Regions from separate parts of the Homo sapiens genome. Here region 2 is linked to region 1. The links come from fine-mapping of genetic effects on gene expression. A gene starts in region 1. The other region holds a variant in brackets. All regions are shown on one strand. Distances are between the middles of the regions.

The links. PIP is the estimated chance that this variant, and not a neighbour inherited with it, causes the effect.
Region 2: its variant is the best candidate, but not a certain one, in a credible set for the expression of EID1 in whole blood (TOPMed, PIP 0.70).

The regions. Positions count from the first base shown.
Region 1 is chr15:48,874,823-48,880,208 of GRCh38, reverse strand. EID1 (EP300 interacting inhibitor of differentiation 1) reads right to left here and starts at 2,075. Exons shown (of 1, transcript NM_014335.3): 1 at 36-2,075. The coding sequence starts at 2,032. The coding sequence ends at 1,469. The region is part of intron 4 of SHC4 (SHC adaptor protein 4); the gene reads left to right. RefSeq lists enhancers at 1,821-2,120, 2,391-2,500.
Region 2 is chr15:48,896,045-48,901,430 of GRCh38, reverse strand. All of the region lies in intron 2 of SHC4 (SHC adaptor protein 4), which reads left to right. Among named protein-coding and RNA genes, the nearest start is that of EID1, 21 kb to the right of the region's middle. The variant T/C (reference allele first, on the strand shown) is at 2,888.

The DNA.
Region 1 (5,386 bases):
TGACCATAAAATAAATAAGGCTCTGAATTGTCCTGTTGCATTGGATATTCGTTCTTTACTGCTATAATGGAGCAGAAGCATTTGGAACATTTTTACTGATCATGATAAAACCTGCTGATACACTTATTTTGCTGAACCTAGCCTTCTGATGTAATCATTACTCTCCTAGAACTTCAGCATCTTAGTAAGGTAACCACGGCAACATACTCATTGATAGGGCAGGTTTTCCCAGACCAGCAAATTCTTATAGGCAAAAACTTAATTTACAAAGTTTAATTTCCAGAAATTAATTTGTGAATTAGATAGCTGAAGCTGGATCATTTTCCCTTAATACTGGTTAACACATACAATAGAAAGTAGTATACAGAGAAAGTATGTATGCAATACTATTAGCCAAACAAAATACACAGAACAAGAAATTTTATTATCTCCAATGCTGGTGCATGACAAATAACAAGCTTAATTAGAGGAGGAGACAGAGGGAAACTTCAGATACCAAGGTAATTTCTGGGCAGGTTTAAAACCTTTAAAAGTTGATAGAATAACTGTTCATAAAGTCTTTTTAGATATAGCGCTTTTTACTTGACAACTTTTATTAACAGTTCTTACAATATGAAGTTCAACTAAAGTCCTTCATCTGTCAAGTTAAAACAGCAAGCAAAACAAAATTTCTCTAGTATATAACAGCATAAGCAATGGTTTGTTTTCTTTGTACATTCACACACATTTAGTGTCTAGATTTGAAACTTTTTAATTAAGGATGTCTTAATTTTTGACTTTTAAAAATGGTTATGACAATGGATTTTCTTGATTTATAGATCACAGTGGCTTTATAAATGATCAAGATACATGTACAAACAAAATTTCAGATGCTCTTGGAAACACATCTTAAGATACAAAGCACACGTGATACATATTTGAGTTTACTCATCCATTTATCTTACACTGAAAATGTAGCCTTTGATAACTGTGGCTTGACTAGATCACAAAATAGAATTTTCCAAGTTTTCTTAAGCTTTCAGTCCAAATAACTCAAAAGATATGTGTCCTAGTTGGATACATTTTTTTCTCATTATATAATTAGTATCAGTGGGCTTTTGTATTGGCAGTTTGTCTTGGTCATGACTTATTCTTGCAAAACCATCTTTACAGCAAACAAATATGAAAGATATTTTCCCCAATGCAAGGAAAATAATCTGGATCAATAACAAAGTCAAAGCCATAGGTGTTTTAGGACGTTCTTGATAATTGATTTCAACGGTCTTAAAATCTTTTTTCTTTTTCTTTAATGATTCTCTTCCTTTTTCACAACTGTGCAGTCACTGTCCTATTGTGTTCTATTCTGAAAAACAAATTTTTTTGAAGGTCAAGTTTTTCAATGGCACAAAACTATTTGGAATGAACCCAAAAGATAGCGGAAAGTTGGGTCCCTCCTCAAGTAGTTTCCTCCTCTTTTAACAGCATCTAACTACTCTCTATCAATAATCTCATCACAGCCGAGTTCTTCGGTCAGACGATTGACAACCATCAGTGAAAAAAGCTCTTCGATAAAAGCTAACTGATCAAACGGGGTCTTCTCATAATGCATCTGAAACCCGCCATCCAGGGCTGGTTCTCTTGTTCTCAGAAACATCTTGTCGGCTTCTTCAAGAGCGGCTGATACTCTGTAGCCGGCACCACTGAGCTGCTCCTCTTCGGGATAGTCGTAGTCGTCCTCCCAGTCATCAAATTCCTCGCCCTCGTCCTCGCTCTCGAAGTCTGCGCCCGCCACCTGGCCTGGCTGCTCCCCAGCGTTGGGCCCGTTAGCAAGGCTCCGTTTCCCCTCTGGCGCCGCCATTGGCTGGGCCTCCTCCTCCTCCATTGGGCCTTCCTCCTCGAGCTGTTGGGCCCCGCTGCGGGAGGGACGCAGGGATAGCTCCCGGCTCCCGCTGCCTACCTCCATCTGCGGAAGGTCACCCTCGCCAGGCATCACATCCATCTGCAGGTCACTGCTCTCTTCATACAGCTCGGACAACTCAGCCATTTCCGACATTGTGCAAACCGCTCAACCTCTAGGAAAAAGCTTCCAGCAAGACAGATGCTGCGCGGCCGTGCGTTCGTGCGCGTGCGCAAAGGCTGCGCGCTTGCGTAACCCCGCGCGCAGGCGTGGTCCTCAGGTACCGCCTCCTACTTGGCGCGCCACTGTGGTTGGAGTAGCTCAGTGTTTTCTCCGGGGTGTTGGCGTCGCCTTTTGAGCTACGTTTCCATCGATTCGAACTTCGTATCTAGGGACCCTGCATGCAAGAGCGTAACAGTTTCTGTGTTACTTAACCCTACTGCTGCTTGTAATGCTGCAAACCGGAAAATAACCTTACATGGCCTTCGTAACATTTAATGCTCCTTCCCCCCCTTCCTCTTCCCCTGGGCAATTTACCGATGTACTGATGACTTGTAAATCCACGTCTCCAAACCAGACAACATCCATAACCACAGATCAGCATATTAAGAACTAATCCATTTTGTCCTTTTAGTGTTTTCATTTAAAAAGTTAAATTCACAAACAACAGATATATTGTACTTTTTTTTTTTTTAGTTATAGTGAAGAAATACTTGGTCCCATTTCTTTTCGCCTGGGAGGTATCTTTCCACTATTAGCAATGCGGTGTGTATTCTTTGAATTCTTTTTATTTGCATTTACATGTATCTTTATGTATTGACAGCAAAATACTATTTTGTGTGTTTTTTAAAAACATGTTTTACCTGTTTTTACCTTCAACTTAAAAGCCTCAGGTTTTAAGTTGTATATACTTATATGAATTATATGACTGTGTATACTTACAGGATTCAAGCACATTTCATTTATTCTGCACTTTATTTCTATTATTATTACATTATAGTTATGTAGAATTATACAACTCACCATAATGTAGAATCAATGGGAGCCCTGAGCTTGTTTTCCTGCAACTAGATGGTCCCATCTGGGGGTGATGAGACACAGTGACACCCGAGGTGTGTTCCTTATGTCCGGTCTATTCTGTAATCTCATTTTGGTTGCTGTTACTGTGGAAAATCCTGCCTCACAAAGATAGGATGTTGAAAATGGAAGGAGGCTTTTCAGTACTTTTGTGGCAATCTCAGGATGTTCCGCCTTGACTTTAATCGAGAACGTATGGAGATTTGAAGTTGTCTCAAACATACTTTTAAGGCCACCGTCATTTGCAATATCAAGCAGTTGATCCTCTTCTAGCGTGGACAAAGTGGATTCACCTGGCTTATTCACAAATGGGTCACAGATCCATTCCGTCTTTTGTGGATGAGAAGTGTGATGGTTAATACTGAGTGTCAACTTGATTGGATTGAAGGATACAAGTATTGATCATTGGTGTGTCTGTGAGGGTGTTGCCAAAGGAGATTAACATTTGAGTCAGTGGGCTGCGAAAGGCAGACCCACCCTTAATCTGGTTGGGCACAATCTAATCAGCTGCCAGCTTGGCTAGAATATAAGCAGGCAGAAAAATGTGAAAAGAGAGACTGGCCTAGCCTCCCAGCCTAAATCTTTCTCCTGTGTTGGATGCTTCCTGCCCTCGAACATTGGATTCCCAAGTTCTTCAGTTTCAGAACTCGGACTGGCTCTCCTCTCTCCTTAGCCTGCAGACAGCCTATTGTAGGACCTTGTGATCATGTGAGTTAATACTTAGTGAACTCCCCTTTACATATATATACATATATATGTGTATATGTATGTGTGTATGTGTATATACGTGTGTGTGTGTGTGTATATATATATGTATATATTCCATTAGTTCTGTGCTTCTAGAGAACCATGACTAATACAGGAAGTAATGCTCAAAATATTTTGAAAGCTGAGATAGGTGATCATGCACCAGCTGGGAGAAAGAAGACCCTGGCTCAGTCTCTTTCAAAATCTCTGCTAATGTTTGAAATGTCAGAAATCCCAGTGTTCATTTGTCACCCGCATGATTCCAGTTTGGCTTTGAATGCAGCCACCTTATCTGCCAAGTTGAACACAGTTGTTGTTCGTCCCTGAAGTGACAGAGTTCACTGAGCAGGTTGAATATGTCACACAAGTAAGCAAGTTTTTTTGTGACCCATTCTGTGTCACTGAAATGTGCCGCCAATGGTGACTGTTTTTCTACAAAGAAATCTCTGAAGCAGCTCTCTTAACTCAAAAACTCTGGCCAGTGATCTACCTTTAGAAAGCCATCTCACTTCTGTGTGTAAGAGAAGACGTGTGTGCTCTGCATCCATCTCCTCACAGAGCTGCACAAACAGATGTGAGTTAAGGGCATGTATAATATGGTTGATAATTTTAATCACATACTGCAAAATGTTGTTAAGTTCAGGTGACATTTTCTGACTAGCCATCATTTCTCTATGGATGACATGGTGCATAGACTCACATTCAGAAGCGACCTCTTTGACCTGAGTAGTGAAACCAAAATGCCATCCAGTCATGGCAGCTGCTCCACCCATGCATATACCGATGCAAAATGACTGATTCCACTTTCCTGATATGTAATCATTCAAAGACTTGAATAGTTCTGCATCTGTGGTGCTGGTTGGCAACAAAAGTGCATATAGCATATCCTCATTCACATCCTCCTGCAAAATATATCACACACAAAAAAGCATTGTTCCTTTCTAACAATTGTGCCTCATTATCCTCTGATATTTCATCAGTTCATCTAGTTGTGGTGCTAGCCAAAAGAGGAACACATGCCACCTTTTGAACTGCAGCCTCTCCTGAAAGTTCATGACAAATGTCCTTAGAAGCAGGCAGGATCAACTCTTCATCAATAGTAAAGGACTTCTTAGCTTTAGCAATGTGGTTAGCCACTAAGAATGATGCTCTCAGTGCAAACACATCTGATGAAGTGGTGGCCTTCAATAATTTCTTCTATTCTTTGTGTTCACATTGTTTTCTTTTGAAAAACTCCAAAGGCTTAGTATTAATGCAGGGTGTGTGGTCTCCATGTGACAAAGCAGTTTAGAAGGCTTCATGGCTTTGTTAGATAGCCACTTGCTACATGTTATGCAAAGCAAGCTTGGATAATGTGAATCACCTGTTGTAATGAACTGGTATTTTAAGTAGGACTCTTGATATTTTCTTTTAAATGCAGCTTTATTTTTGTTGGCAGTCTTAAAGTCTTCTGCAGTCTCATCACTGGATCTTTCCCCCTTTTCAAAGAACCTCTCCAGTGAAGTTTGTTTTTTACTCATTTTGGCTAGGGTTAGCTTATGGGCTTACCAAAACTGTGACCGAGAAAGTGCATGGTGCAGGAAAGAGACATGGATGGGAGTGGTAAATAAAATAATGGGCGGGTCAGGAACAAACTAAAATAGTCGGATTCAGACTTAAAGCCTGCCATCAGCTGCAGCTGTACAA
Region 2 (5,386 bases), 21 kb before region 1:
TACTGACATAGGGAAAGACCCCTTTCTTATAATACCCAACTTCCTGTACCAAGAAACCGAACAAGACAAAGTTCAAAATATGTATAAACAATCCTTGCAAAAGATTACACTCTAATAAGCTTTGCACCATGCACAAGCTAATAACTGACCACGACCCCAAAGCCTCTTACATTTGTTTCCGGTTTGCTTTAGAGCAAGAGTCAGAGAACAACAGCCTGCAGGCCAAATCCCACCTGCTACCTGATTTCGATTTTGCCACCTTGTCAGCCAAGAATGGTTTTGACAATTTTTAAATGGTTGGAAAAAACACCCCAAAAGAATATTTTGTGACACATGAAAATCATATGGAATTCAAATTTCAGTGTCCATAAGTGTTACTGGCACACAAGCACATCCATTTGTTTATGGATTGCCTATGGCTGTTTTTCTAGCTACAACAGCAGAATTGAGTAGCTGTAACAGAAACTATATAACCTGCAAAGGCTAAAATATTTCCTACCTGGCCCTTTTCAGAAAAAGTTTGCCAACTGCTGCTAGAGTGATTCTCAACCTTAGCCTTGTTGGAAGCATTTGGAAGAGATCTTAAAACTTCTGACCCCCAAGCCCTGTCCGGCACCAATTAATTCAGAATCTCTGGAGCTGAGACCCAGTCTTCAGAACTTCGTAAAATTCTTGGTGGTGTAGTCCAATGTGCAGCCAAGGCTGAGAACCACTGCCTAGAGTGTTGAATGCATTTTAGGGGCAAATAGATTAGATCTTGCTGCCTCCAGGATGACCTTGCTGCCTCCAGATAAGAGAGAGAATGCAGGCCACTCTCTCACTGCTTGTGTGTGCAAAGGGTGATGTAAGCAAAGATGTTCAGGACCTCCATGTGCCCTCTGGTAAAAGCCCTTCTTCTTCTTCTTTTTTTCTTTTTTTTTTTTTGAGTTGGAATCTCACTCTGTAGCCCAGGCAGGAGTGCAGTAGCACGATCTCAGCTTACTGCAACCTCCACCTCCCAGGTTCAAGAGATTCTCCTGCCTCAGCCTCCCAAGTAGCTAGGACTACAGGTGCCCACCACCACTTCCGGCTACTTTTGTATTTTTAGTAGAGATGGGGTTTCACTATGTTGGCCAGGCTGGTCTTGAACTCCTGACCTCAGGTCATCCTCCCACCTAGCCCTTCCAAAGTGCTGGGATTACAGGTGTGAGCCACTGCGCCCAGCCATAAAGCCCTTCTTCTTTAGGAGATGAGAATGGGGGAGGCAGAGAGGAGAAGAGAGGATTATACCAAATATCTATCCCAGAATATAGAGTGACTACATTGAAAACAAAATTCCCCAGAACGGAATATCATCAAACGTATAGACAGTGTAACCTTCCCTAGCCTAGCCTCTAGGAAGAGGTGACCTCATTCCTTAACACGCACTAACACAACCATCTGGTCTAAGCTATAGAGCACAGAACCTGTTACTCAATGCAACGAGTCCAAGTAGGTTTAATCAGCTGTGTGGTTCATGAACTCTGTGTCAGAATCACTTGGAAGGTTTGTTAAGCTGTAGATTCCTAGGCCTCACCTCAGAATCAAAACCTCTAGGAACAGTCCTAGAAATCTGTATTTTAACCAGCACCCAGTTGATTCTTAAGAACTTTACAGTTTGATCACCACTTACCTAAATGGTGTACTCTCTGTGGATGTGCAAGCTGAAGTTGTCCTACTATTATTTGTCAAGGTGGATTAACTTGGTAGGCCAGTTGTTCGTTCCTTCCAGAGGTGCACACACATTTAAAAAAATGGAATTCCCAAAAAAATTTACAACATATTTGCCAAATAGCCTTTAAAAGAACCAGAGTTATTTAAAAAAAAAAACAGTGGTAGAAGTAATATATTCATTACACCAATTGCTGTCTTGCTCAGTAATATAGACACCTGTATGACAAACTGTTTTACTGTTTGTTTATTTATTTATTCATTTATTTATTTATTGAGACGGAGGGTTGCTCTGTCACCCAGGTTGTAGTGCAATGGCACAATCTTGGCTCACTGCAACCTCCACCTCCCGGTTCAAGCAATTCTCCTGCCTCAGCCTCCCTAATAGCTGGGATTACAGATGTGCACCACCATGCCCAGCTAATTTTTGTATTTTTACTAGAGATGGGGTTTCACGATGTTGGCCAGGCTGGTCTCAAACTCTTGACCTCAAGTGATCCGCCTACCTTGGCCTCCCAAAGTACAAAGATTACAGGTGTGAGCCACCACACCTGGCCAAACTGTTTTAAATATCTTTAAAATTCCAAGTATTCTCTGAAGAATTTTTGGAAGTAGATATACATTGCTTAGAGTGAGCTTGAGTGAATAAAGTGGGTGACTAAGTAAGACCTGTTTTCGGTTTTTTTTTTTTTTTTTTCTAAATGAGCTTTGGCTTTTAAGTGACCACATTATGCATCAGTGCACTCTTTAACTCCAAAAGACACACCTTCATAATATTTTGAATATTTTGTCAAAAACAAAGTTGTTTTAAAGAAGCCCAGTTTACCCTAAAGGAGAACAATCTTTTGAATTTATAAATTCCCATGTATTTTATATGAAACCAACTCTATTTCTTATTGTCATTTCTTTAACCACTTATAAAGCCTATAAGCCATCAGTTTGTGGGTGTAGGTGTTTGAATTTTGAGATACATGATTGTATTACAGGAAATCTCTGTGGGGACAGGAAAAAACCAGCACTTAATGTCCGTTAACTAGTGAGAGTTATAGGGGAGATGTGATACTCCAGACAAGAGGGTCCTTCACTTCATTCCAGTGTGATTAATGGGTTCACATTTGCATCAGAGCCAAAGGGCAGAATCACGAAGTAGACAGACAAACCCATTTCCTATGGTTGCTGAGCTGGGTTGGCTAGCAAA[T/C]GTACTTTAGAAACAGACTTTAAGTACAATTCAGGTGAACAGAGTGGGACACTAAGTCAGTGTGGGGATAAATGCTGTGGGCAGTACTCAAAGGTTTTATTTGACCATCCTGGGACCCGAGGTGCCTGTTTCTAAAGTGAAAGGATGTATTTTATGAGGCTGAGTTCACCCTCCTAGAGTACACGGGTGATGCCCCTTGATAATAGCACAAAGCAAGTCTGAGGCTTTCCATTTTCAACTGGTCTGTGGGCACTGACTGCGTTCATTGTGTGCTTATCGCCACAGAGGCAGGTTCCTGTTCTAAAGTGTCCTGTCTGAGGGCTTTCACAAATTCTTGGATGTCTTTAATTTCACTAAGCTGGACAAAATTGAACACATAGATCACTGAGCCTTGCTGTCCTGGAGGCAAAGATTTAAAAAAAGATGGTACTGGTTTCCCTAGAACAATGAGAACAGCATGATACCACATGGATGTGCAGTCTGAATTACTCAGTCTCTTCATTCATAATAAGAAGGCAATCCAAGACATTTAGGGTGCAACATGTCCCTTAGACTTTGTTAACTGATTTCTTTAAGGACTTACGTTGGAGATGCAAAGTGAAAGAAAGACCTTTGGGAAACGCAGGTGAATTTGTTTTGGCTGAGTATCGTTGACTTTTTATTTTGGAAAGGCTCTTGCTGTGATTAAAATTTTATTCTCATTCCTATTTGCAGGGACAAAACTGGAACTACTCCTTCACTGCATATGTGACTATAGATGTGTGTGTGTGTGTGTGTGTGTGTGTGTCAGAAGGTGGGGGATGTGGGGATCATTGCCTTTAATCATTCCAGCTGGGCCCCTTTGCCTGGTTTCATGTTGCACATTTTCTGGCTTTCCTATTTACTGAAGAACTGCATCTTGACATTCACCAGAAAAAATCTGCCGCGCAGCCTCTCCTCCCATTAAATGCTCCCCTTTGTCTTGGATTGTGATATTGCCTTCCAAACTTAAAAAAAAAAAAAGTGTGTGCGTGTGTGTGTGTGTGTGTGTGTGTGGCGACATTGCTTCCAGAGGAGCTTAACTGTTTAAGGGTTAAAAACACAGAAGAATTATAACTTAAGTGTTGTAGTGGCCAGGAGTTGATGAAGAAAGGTGGCTTTGTTTGGATGATTAGTTTGGACTCTGTTAAGACAGACAAAATATCTTTTTTTGGTCTTATGGCGTAGGCAGGGTTTTATATGCTTAAAAGCAAATCTTCCACGGCATTCTCATTCTCTTACATCAGCCCACTTCTCCCCTTCTCTCTCATGTGGCGAAACAATAAACAAAGTGGCCACTGTTGGTGCTCTGGGGCGTTTCTCTTTCTTTCTAATACAGGCTCCCAGGATGGAAATCTTTAGCCACTGAAACCCCAAAATTTCTGCTCCTCTAAGAGCAGACACTTGCTGAATGTTTGCTAGCTGGAGAAAGTCTCACCGCCACTCAGCTCCAAAAAGGTTCTGCAGGAGCGCAGCTGCTTGGGCTGCAAGAATGGCGGGGACCCCCTGAGCCCCAGGAGAAATCGCTCTCAACTCTGTTTTCTTTTTCTTTCTCCTCGGCATTTGTAAAGTTGGCCCAAGGGTGTGGCTGAGACTCCAGAAAAGCACTGAAAGTACTATTTGTTCTTGAAAATGTTACAGTTAATGTCTTGGTCCCAGTAGCAGGGGAAGAAAAGATCTTTGTGAACAAAAGCAACAAAATGTAGGCATCTATCTGCCTGTCCTTGCTGGGATTTCAGGAGATTTGTTAACGCTGCTATCAGCAAGGCCAGCAGAATTTGAGAGGTTAATTTAAAGCAGTATTTCTTAACCTGGGATCTGTAATTTCTAAGAGGTCCACAGAATGTTTTGGGGAGCTTTGGGGTGAGGAGTGGACCTTCTTAAATGGAATAGAAAAGTTTGTACAGGCTGGGCGCGGTGGCTCATGTCTGTAATCCCAGCACTTTGAAAGGCCAGGCGGGCAGATCACCTGAGGTCAGGAGTTTGAGACCAGCCTGGCCAATGTGGCGAAATCCCATCTCTACTAAAAATACAAAAATTAGCCGGGCATGGTGGCAGGCACCTGTAATTCCAGCTACTTGGGAGGCTGAGGCAGGAGAATCGCTTGAACCCTAGAGGCGGAGGTTGCAGTGAGCTGAGATCATGCCATTGAACTCCAGCCTGGCCGACAGAGTGAGACTCCGTCTCAAAAAAAAAAAAAGAAAGAAAAGAAAGAGAGAGAGAGGGAGAGGGAGGGAGAGAGAGAGAGAGAGAGGGAGAGGGAGGGAGAGAGAGAGAAAGAGAGAGGGAGGGAGGGAGGGAGAGAGAGAGAAAGAAAGGAAGAAAGAAAGAAAGAAAAAGAAAGAAGGAAAGTTTGTACAAATAGGTCTTTTACTGGAGAGAGGCATGGCTCATCTTAGAGTCTCCAATTCAAAAAATTAATAACTACTATTTTTTTTGAGACAGGATCTTGCTCTGTCGCCCAGACTGGAGTGCAGTAAT